Linked DNA regions of Homo sapiens. The protein of the gene in region 1 interacts with the protein of each later gene in a pairwise test. Each region holds a gene or a part of one and is shown on either strand. Other genes may lie near its edges.

The links. The genes of interacting proteins can lie anywhere in the genome.
Region 2: the proteins of SSX2IP (region 1) and ZSCAN12 interact in binary tests that used the Homo sapiens proteins (3 or more experiments, as listed by UniProt).
Region 3: the proteins of SSX2IP (region 1) and DRG1 interact in binary tests that used the Homo sapiens proteins (3 or more experiments, as listed by UniProt).
Region 4: the proteins of SSX2IP (region 1) and ZNF202 interact in binary tests that used the Homo sapiens proteins (3 or more experiments, as listed by UniProt).

Annotation. Positions count from the first base shown.
Region 1 is NC_000001.11:84,680,462-84,683,961, forward strand, and holds part of SSX2IP (afadin- and alpha-actinin-binding protein), read right to left. Parts: intron 2,007-3,500; exon of another isoform or gene 1,737-2,006; intron 1,524-1,736; exon of another isoform or gene 1,367-1,523; intron 1-1,366. UniProt on the Homo sapiens protein: Belongs to an adhesion system, which plays a role in the organization of homotypic, interneuronal and heterotypic cell-cell adherens junctions (AJs).
Region 2 is NC_000006.12:28,393,248-28,396,747, forward strand, and holds part of ZSCAN12 (zinc finger and SCAN domain-containing protein 12), read right to left. Parts: intron 1-3,500. UniProt on the Homo sapiens protein: May be involved in transcriptional regulation.
Region 3 is NC_000022.11:31,430,604-31,432,777, reverse strand, and holds part of DRG1 (developmentally-regulated GTP-binding protein 1), read right to left. Parts: intron 1-2,174. UniProt on the Homo sapiens protein: Catalyzes the conversion of GTP to GDP through hydrolysis of the gamma-phosphate bond in GTP. Appears to have an intrinsic GTPase activity that is stimulated by ZC3H15/DFRP1 binding likely by increasing the affinity for the potassium ions.
Region 4 is NC_000011.10:123,735,161-123,738,660, forward strand, and holds part of ZNF202 (zinc finger protein 202), read right to left. Parts: intron 1-3,500. UniProt on the Homo sapiens protein: Transcriptional repressor that binds to elements found predominantly in genes that participate in lipid metabolism.

The DNA of each region.
Region 1 (3,500 bases):
TTTAATAATTTTATTAAATAAACTTATGCATGTAGAGGGCTTAAAAAAAGGTCATGGGTACATGGTAAGTGCTCAATAAATGCTAGCTATTATTAGCTATTTTACTCTTGGAAAGACTTCCATGATATTTTGTTAAGTAATGTAAAAAAGTTACAAAACCATATCTAATATGAGCTTATTTAGTCCTCAGGAAAAAAAAACAAATATCAGTAGATATGTACAGGCATAAATTCTGCTCTATAAACACAAAAGTTGGTATAAGGACAGAAAAAATTGCAAGGAAAAACCAACTTAAAAAATAGGGAAAAGGCAAGGGCAGGACTTTCATTCCTTTCTTTATGTACTTTCATGCACAAAAATATAACTTTTATTTTATTGTGTCTTCCAAATTTTCTATAAATGAAAGTGTTTTTCATATTAAGAAAAAAAATTTATGTTTTTAAAAGGCAATTATGGTGATGATAAGCACAGGAAATGGGGATAAACAGCACCATTCTGAACCACCAAAACCAATGGTAGAATGGCATGAGTGATAAAAAATGCATAAAATAAAACAGCAAGCAGTCTTGTTGGGCAAAAACTGGTTAGAAAATTATACAAATGTCCTACAGTTTTTTAAGATAGTCAATTATGTAAGGGAAATAGCACTTTACCAGAGATCAGTAGTTTGTTGTTTTAAAGGGCAATTCCAACAGTATACAAATATTTGAAATGTGTAAATCTTTCCACTAAACAATCATACTTCTAGGCATATAAGAGAGCAAGCATAATATATATTGAGGACATTGTTGAATTGCAGTATTATTTGAAATGGCAAAAAACTAGAGACAATCTTAATATCCATCATGGACAAACTGTTAAAAACCAACACATATGGTACAGCCAGGCTATTCTGGGATTATTAAAGATTAAAGCACATATGCATGTATAGCACAAAAAAAGAAGTTACAGGTTAATTAGAACAGTATGATCACCATTTTTTGTTAACTCAAACTACCTATATATATTTAGGGGAAAGTTCTGGAAAAGTTACAAAATGTCACAAATGACACTTCTTGGGATGGAATAATTTGGGTACAGGGAGGGGTAGAAGAGCAGGGCTTTCACCTCTTCCATAGCATATCTTTATATAGCTTGAATGTTATAGGAGCATGTATTATTCTGTAAAATTTTTAGCAGCAGAGTATTCAAGCACAATTAAATGAGATAATGTGTGAAAGTACTCTTAGCTCAATCCCAAAAAGTAGCAGCCCTGTCCTTGAGTGGAAATCTCGACTTAGACAAATCCCACCAATCAGGTACACTTCTAGCACCTGTTCCACATATGTACGCATACCCATGAGCAAGGGTAATGCAGTCTTCATACCTGAGGGAATGTCTGTGGGAATCTGGCCCATCAGGAAGACAGGGAACAGAAATACAGAGGCCAGACTTTTCCCCAACTATCATCAAGGGCAAAGCCATGGAGTACTGGCAGACCTGGCAAAAGTGGACTCTCCCCCTGGCTTAATGAACAATCCAACCTTGGTAGGAGGAAAGAGGGAAATTGACTTTATTAACACCCTCTTCAAAAACAAATGCTCTTCATCTTTCAACCTTCAATGAATGAAATTACTAAGAAGGTGCATTTCCGCTTCAAGAGAGCAGCTCACAAAGTTAAATACGGTAGGGACTTAATCTATGTACACCATCTGATATTCCATTATATACTGACTTTTTATTGCTAATGTTTTCACCTGTTTTGGACTTGGCTGCCAATTAAACTGTTAGTTTTCCAGGGCGCTGTCACTTCAGGGAAGCTGCACAGGGTACTGAGAGAGCGCTGGACTGAGTAGCATCAGAGGCCATGGTTCTCAGCAACACTTCTGTTATGTACTGAGAAACCTTGAACCGGTCATAATTTCTTTGGGTTTCAATTATGAAGTCAAACTAGATGACCTTTAAAGAATTTCAAGTTCTATTATCTTTTGATTTTTACATTTCTCATAGGACCCAATATGGAACTGAGTACAGCTATTTATATCAAAATTATTTTGTCTTCACTTTTTTTTTTTTTTTTGAGACGGAGTCTTGCTCTGTTGCCCAGGCTGGAGTGCAGTGGGGTGTGATCTCAGCTCACTGCAACCTCTGCTTCCTGGGTTCAAGCAATTCTCCTGCCTTGACCTCCCGAGTAGCTGGGACTACAGGCGCATGCCACCGCACCTGCTAATTTTTGTATTTTTAGTAGAGATGGGGTTTCACCATGTTGGCCAGACTGGTCTCGAATTCCTGACCTCGTGATCCTCCCACCTTGGCCTCCAAAATGCTGGGATTACAGGTGTGAGCCATCACGCACTGCCTTTTCTTCACATTTTTATAACAATGTGCACACATTGTCTTTACAACCCAATGTTTAGCAAATGAGATTCTACCTAATTTTAATAACAATAAAATAATTTATTAAGCATGTAGCAATTACTTGGAACAATTCTAAGCATTTTATGTGTACGAACTTATTCAATCTTACAATGATCCAAATACTTTCCCCCATTACAGATAAGGAAACTGAAGCCTGGAGTTTTCTTGACCTAGGATACAGAGCTGGAACATGACAAAGCCAAAATTCAAACCCTGGTAGTCTAGCACATTTAACATTACACCCTACTATCTTTAGTACAGGAGAGGGGGAAGGATACAATATTCAAGCTGCTTTTTTTTTTTTTAAGTTTTGGGATACATGTGCAGAACGTGCAGGTTTGCTGCACCTATCAATCCGTCATCTAGGTTTTAAGCCCCGCATGCATTAGTTATTTGTCCTAATGCTCTTCCTCCCCTCAAGCTGCTTTTTCAAACCGAACAAGTATTCTCTTCTTTACCACCTCACCTGAAACTAAATTATAATCAAATAATTATGCCAATTGAATAACTGGAATGGGAACTACACAAAAGCAGACAAAATATTAAATTCTGGATGTAGCAATTCAAAAAAATTTTGAAAAACCTAGCAAATATATTGCCAGGCTTTCCCTGCACTGCCATCCCTTCTCTCTGTGCTTCTAGAACACTTAACATGAACTGTATTACAGCACAGATCTAACAGGAATAAAATTTCTCTCCCACCACAACTGAGTTCTCATTTGGCAGGCTTGTCAGCATATTCTTTGTACCCCACTTCGGTAACAGGCATCATCACTCACTCCAAGGTTGGAGCCCAGTCAAGATTGCTGAATGAATGTCCAAGTTCAAGGATGTATTAGTGTAAGGTTTGCTGCTGTTTTAGTATGATAGACAAGTCAACACTTTGGCCATGCTGCAATTTGGAAGGGCTTTCAACGTAATCTTGATTGGTAACAGCTCAGAGAAGGAGAAAGGTGATTCAGGGTATGAATCAAGAGCATGGCAATTTACAAACAGTGTATCAGTTTCAAATTCTTCCAATGTACACACAGGAATAGCAGCAATCATATTCTTAGAAGATTATTAAGAAACAAGAAAAAAAAGAGGCACTTTTAGAAGTCTAT
Region 2 (3,500 bases), on another chromosome or scaffold:
GTTGTTACCGCTAAAGTATGTTGGTTGTGCCACTGTTACCTCTTTATCTTATGCTTAAAGAAGTGGAGAAAGGAAAGGGAGAAAGACAAAACAAAGGAGAGAAGAAAAAGGTGAAAAGAGGCAGAAAGGAGGAAATAAGATAGAACTTAGGGTAAAATAAAACATTAAGAGAGAAAGAGGAAAAGGAAAGGGGATATGTAAAGGTAAATAATGTAGAGAAATGATAAAAAAAAAAAAAAAAAGGCACCCTTGGGATGCCATGGTGGGAGGATTGCTTGAGGCCAGGAGTTTGAGACCAGCCTAGGCAATATAGCAAGACCCCATCTCTCCAAAAAAATTAAAAATGATCTGGGCATGGTGGTGCACATCTGTAGTCCTAACTACTCAGGGGACTAAGGCAGGAGGACTGCTTGAGCCCAGTTCAAGGTTATAGTGAACTATGATTACACTACTGAACTCCAGCCTGGGTGACAGAGACACTGTAGCTCCAAAAAAAAAAAAAAAAAAGGTTGAAGGGAACAAATGAGGAGAAAGAAAGGGAAAAGAAGGGAAGGAGAGAAATCTCTTCCATATTCATTCCCTAAGCTGTTCCCAATAGTCTCTGCTCTTCTGAGGTGCCCGTCCCACTTCTCTCTGGGAAGATTATCTTATTTTCTATTTATCCAAGATCACAATCATCTCAAAAATCATCTACTCTTCATTTTATCTATCTCCACCCTCATACTCCTCTCCATTTCTTCTATCTTAGGATGATGTCTTCTCTTTTTCAAGGCTTACGTCTCTACTTTTGCCTTCAATCCCATCACTTTTGGCTTCTCTCTGACCCTTGCTCCCTCAGTTAACTCATTTATTCAATTTCAGCCACTGGGTGGCTCCCATTCTTCCATGGGCTTATTTCCTCTTGCATTTAAAAATAACAGGTTTCTTCAGCAAGGTATTGTAAAAAGCAGGGATTTGGAATCACATGGATTACTTACTCTCTCTCTTAGTCTAGTAGCTCTGTGACCTTGGGCTAGTTACTTACTCTCTCTGAGATTATAAATAACATTTGTATAAACCACCTTGCACAGGGATTGGCATACAACAGGTTCTCAAATTACTCCCCCATTCTCTTCAAAGGTTAAATTTTATAACTAAGAAATCACCATATACTGCCTCTATTTCCCTGATACATTTTCATTTTGTAGCCTCAGTCTTCAGAATAAAAGCGAGAGTCAGCAAAATGCTATCTCAGATGTATAGAAAACGGTGTTTTGATATCTCATATTTTGAAAAAAGAAAGCCGGGGGAAAAGGCCAGTACTGCGAGCTGTGCCTTCTATTCTGGGATCTCTGGTCAGGCCTCAGAAATCAAGCTGTAAACTCCATTATATGCCCCTGCAGTGCTTTCAGAGAAAGAACTGGTTGGCAATACAAATTCAGCACATTTAAAACCAAATTACTTTTGTCTGCATCTAAGAATCCCATTCTTTGTACCTCCCTAGCTACTCTGTTTCTACTGCTCATTACTCCCTTCATGATCTCATCCTATCTCGTGGCTTTAAATACTATGCGTATTCTGAAAAGCCCCAATTCTGTAGTTCTAGCACAGACCCTTCCACTGAATTCCAGTTTATTATATCTAGTTGTTTGCTCAACTTTTCTGCTTGGATTCTAATAGGAATCTCAAAATTAACATGTCCAAACCCTGTTTTTTTTGTTTTTTTGAGGCAGAGTCTCACTCTGTCGTCCAGGCTGGAGTGCAGTGGCAAGATCTTGGTTCACTGCAACTTCCGACTCCTGGGTTCAAGCGATTCTCCTGCCTCAGCCTCCTGAGTAGCTGGGATTATAGGTGCCTGCCACCACACCCAGCTAATTTTTGTATTTTTAGTAGAGACAGGCTTTCATCATGTTGGCCAGGCTGGTCTTGAACTCCTGACCTCAGGTGATCTGCCCACATTGGCCTCCCAAAGTGCTAGGATTGCAGGCTTGAGCCACCGTGCCTGGCCCAAACCCTAAGTTTTGATTCCTGTCTTTCCACCCCAAACCCACTTCTCTCCCAGTCTTTACCATCTCTATGAATGACAAATCCACTCTATCTGATGTTCAGACCAAATACTTCGGCATAATCCTTAACTTACTTTCTCTCATATTCCACATTCTATATAAAAACAAACCCTGTCAAGCTCTAGCTCCAAAATATATCCAGAATCCAATCACATTTTACCACTCCCACTGCTACTATTCTAGTCCAAGTCACCAATATCTCTTGCCTGGATTATTGCTTATTATTATTGCTCCTAAAATGGTTTCGTTGCCTCTACCTTTTACTCCTATGGCTACCCCAGCCCCATTGTGGAACTTTCTCACAGTAGCCAGAGTGACTATTTTAAAATTCAAGTCAGATTATATCTCGCTTCTGTTCAAAATTCTCCAATGACTTTCCATCTCAGAATACAATTCGAAATTCTTATAATGGCCTACAAGTTCTGACATAATATAATCTTATAAGCATTTTATTTCATCTCCTCCTTGACAACCACATCTCCACCATGATAAGTACATTCTCACTTTAAGACCCTCTGCCTGAATGCTGTTATCCCTGATAGCTTATGGCTTGCTCTTTTCATTCAGATTTCTCCTGTAAATGTCACCTATCTGAAAAACCTTCTCTGACAAGTCTACAGAAAACAGCACAATCCCCACTTATTTCACTATTCCTTTTCTCTGCTTTTATTGTTGTTGTTGTTTGAACAGAATTTATTACCACCTACATCTTGTAGGTGTTTGTTGATTTTTTTTTTTTTTTTTGGAGATAGGGTCTCACTGTGTCGCCCAGGCTGGAGTGCAGTGGTATGATCGTGGTTCACTGCAGCCTCGATCTCCTGGGCTCAAGCAATCCTCCCACTTTAGCCTCTCAAGTAGCTAGGACTACACACACCTGCCTGGCTAATTTTTGTATTTTTTATAGAGATGGGGGTCTCACTATGTTGCCCAGGCTGGTTTGTTGATTTTTAATTTACTATCTGTCTCAGTGGACCAGAACCTACATGAGAGCAGCAACCCCTGTGTTTTGTTCGCTGTTGCATTCACAGTGCCTAAAACAGTACCTAGTCCAAACAGACATTCGGTAAATATGTGCTTAATTGTTTCCTGCAGTCTTTAACTTTGTTAGGAGTGTCTCCATTATACTAGTCTTTCAAGCTTAAAATCCCTAGTGTTTAGCTTAGAATACATTGCTCTGTAAAGAGTTCTCCATTGGTTCTTCCTTCTTTATTTAATAGAGCTAATCTGTCATCACTTCCAAACAGTTCTTACCTAAGACATGCCTCATCCTTGGTAATCACACTTTCACGATCCTATTTCTTTTTTCTGTTTGTTTGTTTGTTTTGTTTTTTAAACGGAGTCTCACTCTGTTGCCCAGGCTGGGGTACAGTGGCACAATCTCGGCTCACTGCAACCTCTGCCTCCTAGGTTCAAGTGATTCTCCTGCTTCAGCCTACCAAGTACCTGGGATTACAG
Region 3 (2,174 bases), on another chromosome or scaffold:
ACCAGCATGGCTAATATGGTGAAACCCTGTCTCTACTAAAAATACAAAAATTAGGCCAGGCGTGGTGGCTCACACCTGTAATTCCAGCATTTGGGAGGCCCAGGCGGGCGGATCATGAGGTCAAGAGATCGAGACCATCCTGGCCAACATGGTGAAACCCCATCTCTACTAAAAATACAAAAAAATTAGCTGGGCGTGGTAGCGCGCACCTATAGTCCCAGCTACTTGGGAGGCTGAGGCAGGAGAATCGCTTGAACCTGGGAGGCGGAGGTTGCAGTGAGCCAAGATCGCGCCACTGCACTCCAGCCTGGGCGACTGAGTCTCTCTCAGTCTCAAAAAAAAAAAAAACACACACACACACAAAAAACACAAAGCACAGAGTAAGGGATCAGTGTGGTCAAGGACATGAAGGAAATGGAAAAGGGATAAATGTTATAATTAATTAGGCCTGAAGATGAAAGTTTTCTATTATTAAGAGAGTTGTACCAGTCTGGGCAGCATGGAGAAACCCTAGCTCTAGAAAAATAGAAAAAATTAGCCAGGCATGGTGGTTTGCACCTGTAGTCCCAGCTATTTAAAAGGCTAAGGTGGGAGGATCGCTTGAGCCCAGGAGTTCAAGGCTGCAGTGAACCACGATTACGCCACTGGACTCCAGCCTGGGCGGCAACAGAACAAGACCCTATCTCAAAAAAACCAAAAAGATAGTTGTGCAATAATTAAAGAAAAAAAAAAAAACAGTAAAATAAGAGCAAATAAAATCCTGTTTGCTTCGATATGTTTCTTATCTGAGACATTTTTCTCCCCTTTTTAATTCCCTGGTAAATTTAAAGTTCTGAAGGTTTTGAACAATGTTTTGCCACCATAGAAGGAAAGAGCTATATATAAATCTACAAAGTTTGAAAAAGGACAGTGTTTAACTTTTTACAAAAGTCATCTTTACCAGTTAAAGTAACTGCCAAAGCATAATGTTTTGACTGTGGTGGAAATTAGCACTTACATGTGGAATATAGTTGTTTTATATGTAAGGATCTGAAGGTCAATAAAGGACTTCACTCTCTCAGTACTCTTAGGATCAGAAACAAGTTTTTTCTTTCTTTGGTTGGTTTTTTGAGGAAGGGTCTCAGTCCGCTGCCCAGGCTAGAGTACAGGGGGCATGATCATTATCTTGGCTCGCTGCAATGTCAACCTCCTGGGCTCAAGCAATCCTACCTCTGCCTCCTGAGTAGCTGGGACCACAGGTGCCTGGTACCATGTCTGGCTAATTTTTTTATTTTTGATAAAAACGGGGTCTCACTATATTGCCTAGTCTGATCTCACACTCCTGGACTCAAGCAGTCCTCCTGCCTTGGCCACAAAGTGCTGAGATTACAGGCGTGAGCTACCACACCTAGCCCTATTTTCTTCTTTTGTTTTTAACCCTTTTTCCTATTCAGAAAAAAAAGTGCGGCGGGCACAGTGGCTCACGCCTGTAATCCCAACACTTTGGGGGGCCGAGGTGGACAGATCACGAGGTCAGGAGATCGAGACCATCCTGGCTAACATGGTGAAACCCCGTCTCTACTAAAAATACAAAAAATTAGCCAGGCATGGTGGCAGGCACCTGTAGTTCCAGCTACTCGGGAGGCTGAGGCAGGAGAATGGCATGAACCCGGGAGGCGGAGCTTGCAGTGAGCCGAGATCGCACCACTGCACTCAGCCTGGGCAACAGAGCAAGACTCCGTCTCAAAAAAAAAAAAAAAAAAGCGGGGGGGGGGGGGGAAGGCCGGGTGCAGTGGCTAGTGTCTGTAATCCCAGCACTTTGGGAAGCCAAAGCAGGAGAATCGCTTGAACCCAGGAGTTCGAGACCAGCCAGGGCAACATAGGGAGACCCTGTCTCTACAAATAAAAAAAAAATTTGCTGGGCATGGTGGCATACACTTATGGTCTCAGCTATTCAGAAACTGAGGTAGGAGGATCGCTTGAGCCTGGGAAGTCGAGACTGCAGTGAGCTGTGACAGAGCCACCGCACTCCAGCCTGGGAGACAGAGAACCTGTCTCAAAAATAATACTAAGTGGGAAGGCTAAAATGAACCCTGTAGTGGCCGGGCATGATGGCTCACGCCTGTAATCCCAGCACTTTGAGAGGCCGAGGCGGGCGGATCACGAGGTCAGGAGATCAAGACCATCCTGGCTAA
Region 4 (3,500 bases), on another chromosome or scaffold:
AGAATTAATACATAGGGTCTTTTGGCTTAATAAAAGGACTTCTAGTATCTTAAAAGTTTGAGAACCGACGTCCAGTGAAGTAGACTTGGAATCCTCATTGTTTTCACGCAGCACTAGGTACAAGAGATTCCACAGTATGGATCCTACAACGTATGCATTGACAGAAGAGTTCCTGCTCTCTCAAAGGGCTTTGCTCTCCAAAGAAAAAAGAACATGTAACAGTGCCACACCAAACTTGCCATTTAAAAATGCCCTTCAGAAATCACAAGCTGAGATTTCTGGTGCTTGTTTTGCATTTACTTTGGCAGCCTAGGAAGATGAAGGAAAACAGATCAGCAATAGAAGGAATGAAGGAAGGAGTCTTTGTGGGGTAAGAGATGGGAAATGAATAGGAGGTACAGCAGTGCTGTGCACAGCACCAAACTGGGTATCCAAAGACATATGCCCCGGCCCCAGATCCCCAAGAAACTGGAGCTTCCCTGAGGGTTTCGTGAAGTAACGTACCCAAGAGCCCTTGTAAAGGATAAAGCCCTCTGCAGATAACCAGTCTCCTAACTCAGTGATTATCTGAGATATGAGAGCTTTATGAACTAAAATGTGTTGTGCAAATGTCAAGATTTAATATTAGAGGCAGAAAACAGATGTTGTGTTTTTATTCTATAATTAATGGGATGTGCTATGCCATAAGTATACCTTGCAATTTGTTGCCTTTGCTATTCTAATACCTTTCTTCAATGTCTGTCCTTGGAAGAGTTCCAGAGTAAGACAAAAACTATAGAGAGAATACAATAGAGAGAATATGAAACCAGGCCAGGATTAAGTAAGAGACTTGGTTCCAGAAGACACTAAAACAGTATCTGCAAAGATACAACCTAGTGTCTTGAGTGTTCCTAGGATGCATAGGATTGGAGAGGAGCTATCAAGGTAAGACCTCTGTACAATCCTCAGGCCAGCTGTCTCTGCCCCTTATCTGAAGGTGTCACGTGGCAGTGAAGACCCAAGCTCAATTCTCTTACAAGAACAGAAAACCACAGGCAATGAAACAATATCTAGTTCTCTACCTTAAAACGCTACTAGCTAGGGTGATCTTTCTGGACCCTAAATGACAAAGTCTGTAGTCATATACCATCAACCTAAAGGAGAGACAGTGATCTGCCTATGTACTGGCAAATAATCTTCAGAAGAAAATAGTGATTAGAACTGAAATTATTATATTTAGCAGATATTTATATCCCTTCCAGTCCCCATTCTTATTTTATACCTTAATGCAGGCCTATAGTTTGGTAATTTTAATACAACTACTTGCTGGGGCTAACCAGGGCCTGTCAACAGCTCCTCTCAGTGTTCTAGAATAGAAATTGGCTAATAAAAACTGTTAACCGCTCTTTTCCAATGCTGCTGCTGTTCTTTAAAACGAAAGATTAGCCCAGTACAATCCTTCTAATGGACATATTCTTTTATTCTTGATTGTCCTATATACAAGCGCTTACCTAAGCTTTCCACATAATGGTTAGTGGCCTTGGCACGCTGGGTTTGAATCCCTGACCTCGAATCCCTGACCTCGCTTATTAGCCTTGTAACACAATTTCCCTAAGCCTCAGTCTTATCCTCAAAAATGTGGCTAATACTACTTATCTCATGTGGTTGTTTTAAGGAGTAAATGAAATAACCTATAGAAACCCTTCAGTATAGAGTCTGGCATAGGGTAGGTGCTCAATATATTTTATTCATTTTCCTTCAAGCTATTTGAAATCGTTTTGGGAAGAAGGCAAGATTTAAATGATAAACAAGCAAACAGTTCTCTATTGCATCATAATTACAAAAAAACAGATGGCATAAGGAAAATCTTGGTCGGTCTATTGTTATATCAAAGAAACCATGCTAAACCAAAAAAAAAATCCTTGCTTTGGAGGCACTTATGAAGTAGGATTAAATGAAAGTGTTGGAATACAGATGAGAAGGAACCTTAGACACAGGTTCTCCCACCGAAGACCATATCAGCAATGCTTCTAATTACCAATATATCAAAGTCCTCTCCACTCCCTGTAACTGGCAGGAGACAATCTGAGGCAAACTCAGTGTACCAAGAAGTCCTGTGAAAACTTAACCTAGACAGCACAATGAATGAAAGGGAATGAATTCCCTGGCTTTTGGCCTTCTAACACGTGACCAGTATGCTTCAAAACATGTTTAAAACTGTTTCTGTAAAATATTTTTGCCACCTAAGTTTCCCCCCCGCCCCTTCATAAAAGTGATATTTGAGTAGTGAGGGGAGAAATGGCTCAAAATTTGTTACAAGAGGTTCCAAAGAAAGACAATAAGGTATAGAGAAAGGGAAGACAGGAAGAAAGAGAAAGAGGTCAAGTATGTAGTGGATAGTACAGGGAAGTCACAAGTATCTTCTGTCTGGAAATGCTGCAGATTTTGTGGTTAGCCTCAAGATATTAGGTGGGAATAAACATGTCATTGAGAGTAAATGTAAACACAAAAATGAAAAATAAAAATTGTAACAATTCACTTTATTCTAAACTGTTTTTGATGGTTATATATGGCAGGCCTAGGAGGCAATGTTAGACAGTAGATAGTTGCCTTCGGCGGAGGGTGACCTGTGTTCTGTCCACTGCTCTACATTGTAAAGAGGTGTCATCTTGGACAAGTCACGGCAGCTCATGTTGAGTCTTGGGATGATTCTTTATCTAAAGGTAGAGAACTGAACCAGCTTTTTGATGGTGATGAGGAGGGGTTTTGAGAGGAACAAGGATATACAGCATCTCTATTGAATATTTGGGCCATAATGTAACAGCCTAGGATGCTGAGATTTACTCAAGAGCTGAGGACGGCTAGGGGCCAAACACAGATTTTTAAGTTTTGAGATAGGGTTTACTCTGTTGCTAAGACTGGAGTGCAGTGGCAAGATCACAACTCACTGCAATCTCTGCCTCCCAGGTTCAGGCCATCCTCCCACCCCAGCCTCCTAAGTATCTGGGACTACAGCACATGCCACCATGCCCAGCTAATGTTTAAATTTTTTATAGAGAAGGGGTCTTGCCATGTTGCCCAGGCTGGTCTCAAATACCTGGGCTCAAGTGATCTGCCAGCTTTGGCCTCCCAAAGTGTTAGGATTACAGGTGTGAGCCACTGCACCCAGCCTCAAATACAGATTTTTAAGAGGCCAGATTTATACACCTGGCCATCATGGTCATGTTGGTTAACCTCCATCATGAAGCTAGGCTTTTTAACCTTCAGGAAAACTACCCCAGAGCAGTTAATGGCCTAAATAAAGGAGGTCAAGCTATATGTCTCAGTTTAAAACAGAACATGACAAATTAACCTGAAGCAGGAAAAGGAGGGGACATCAAACCTGACACCCATCCTGATAAGAGTAACTGCTCTCATTTGACAGCCAGAGTTAAACTAGATGTATGCAATCTCTACAACAAACATAGTCAATGCCAATCAGATAGTCAGAGGAACCATCATTTAATGGGAAATAACGCAAT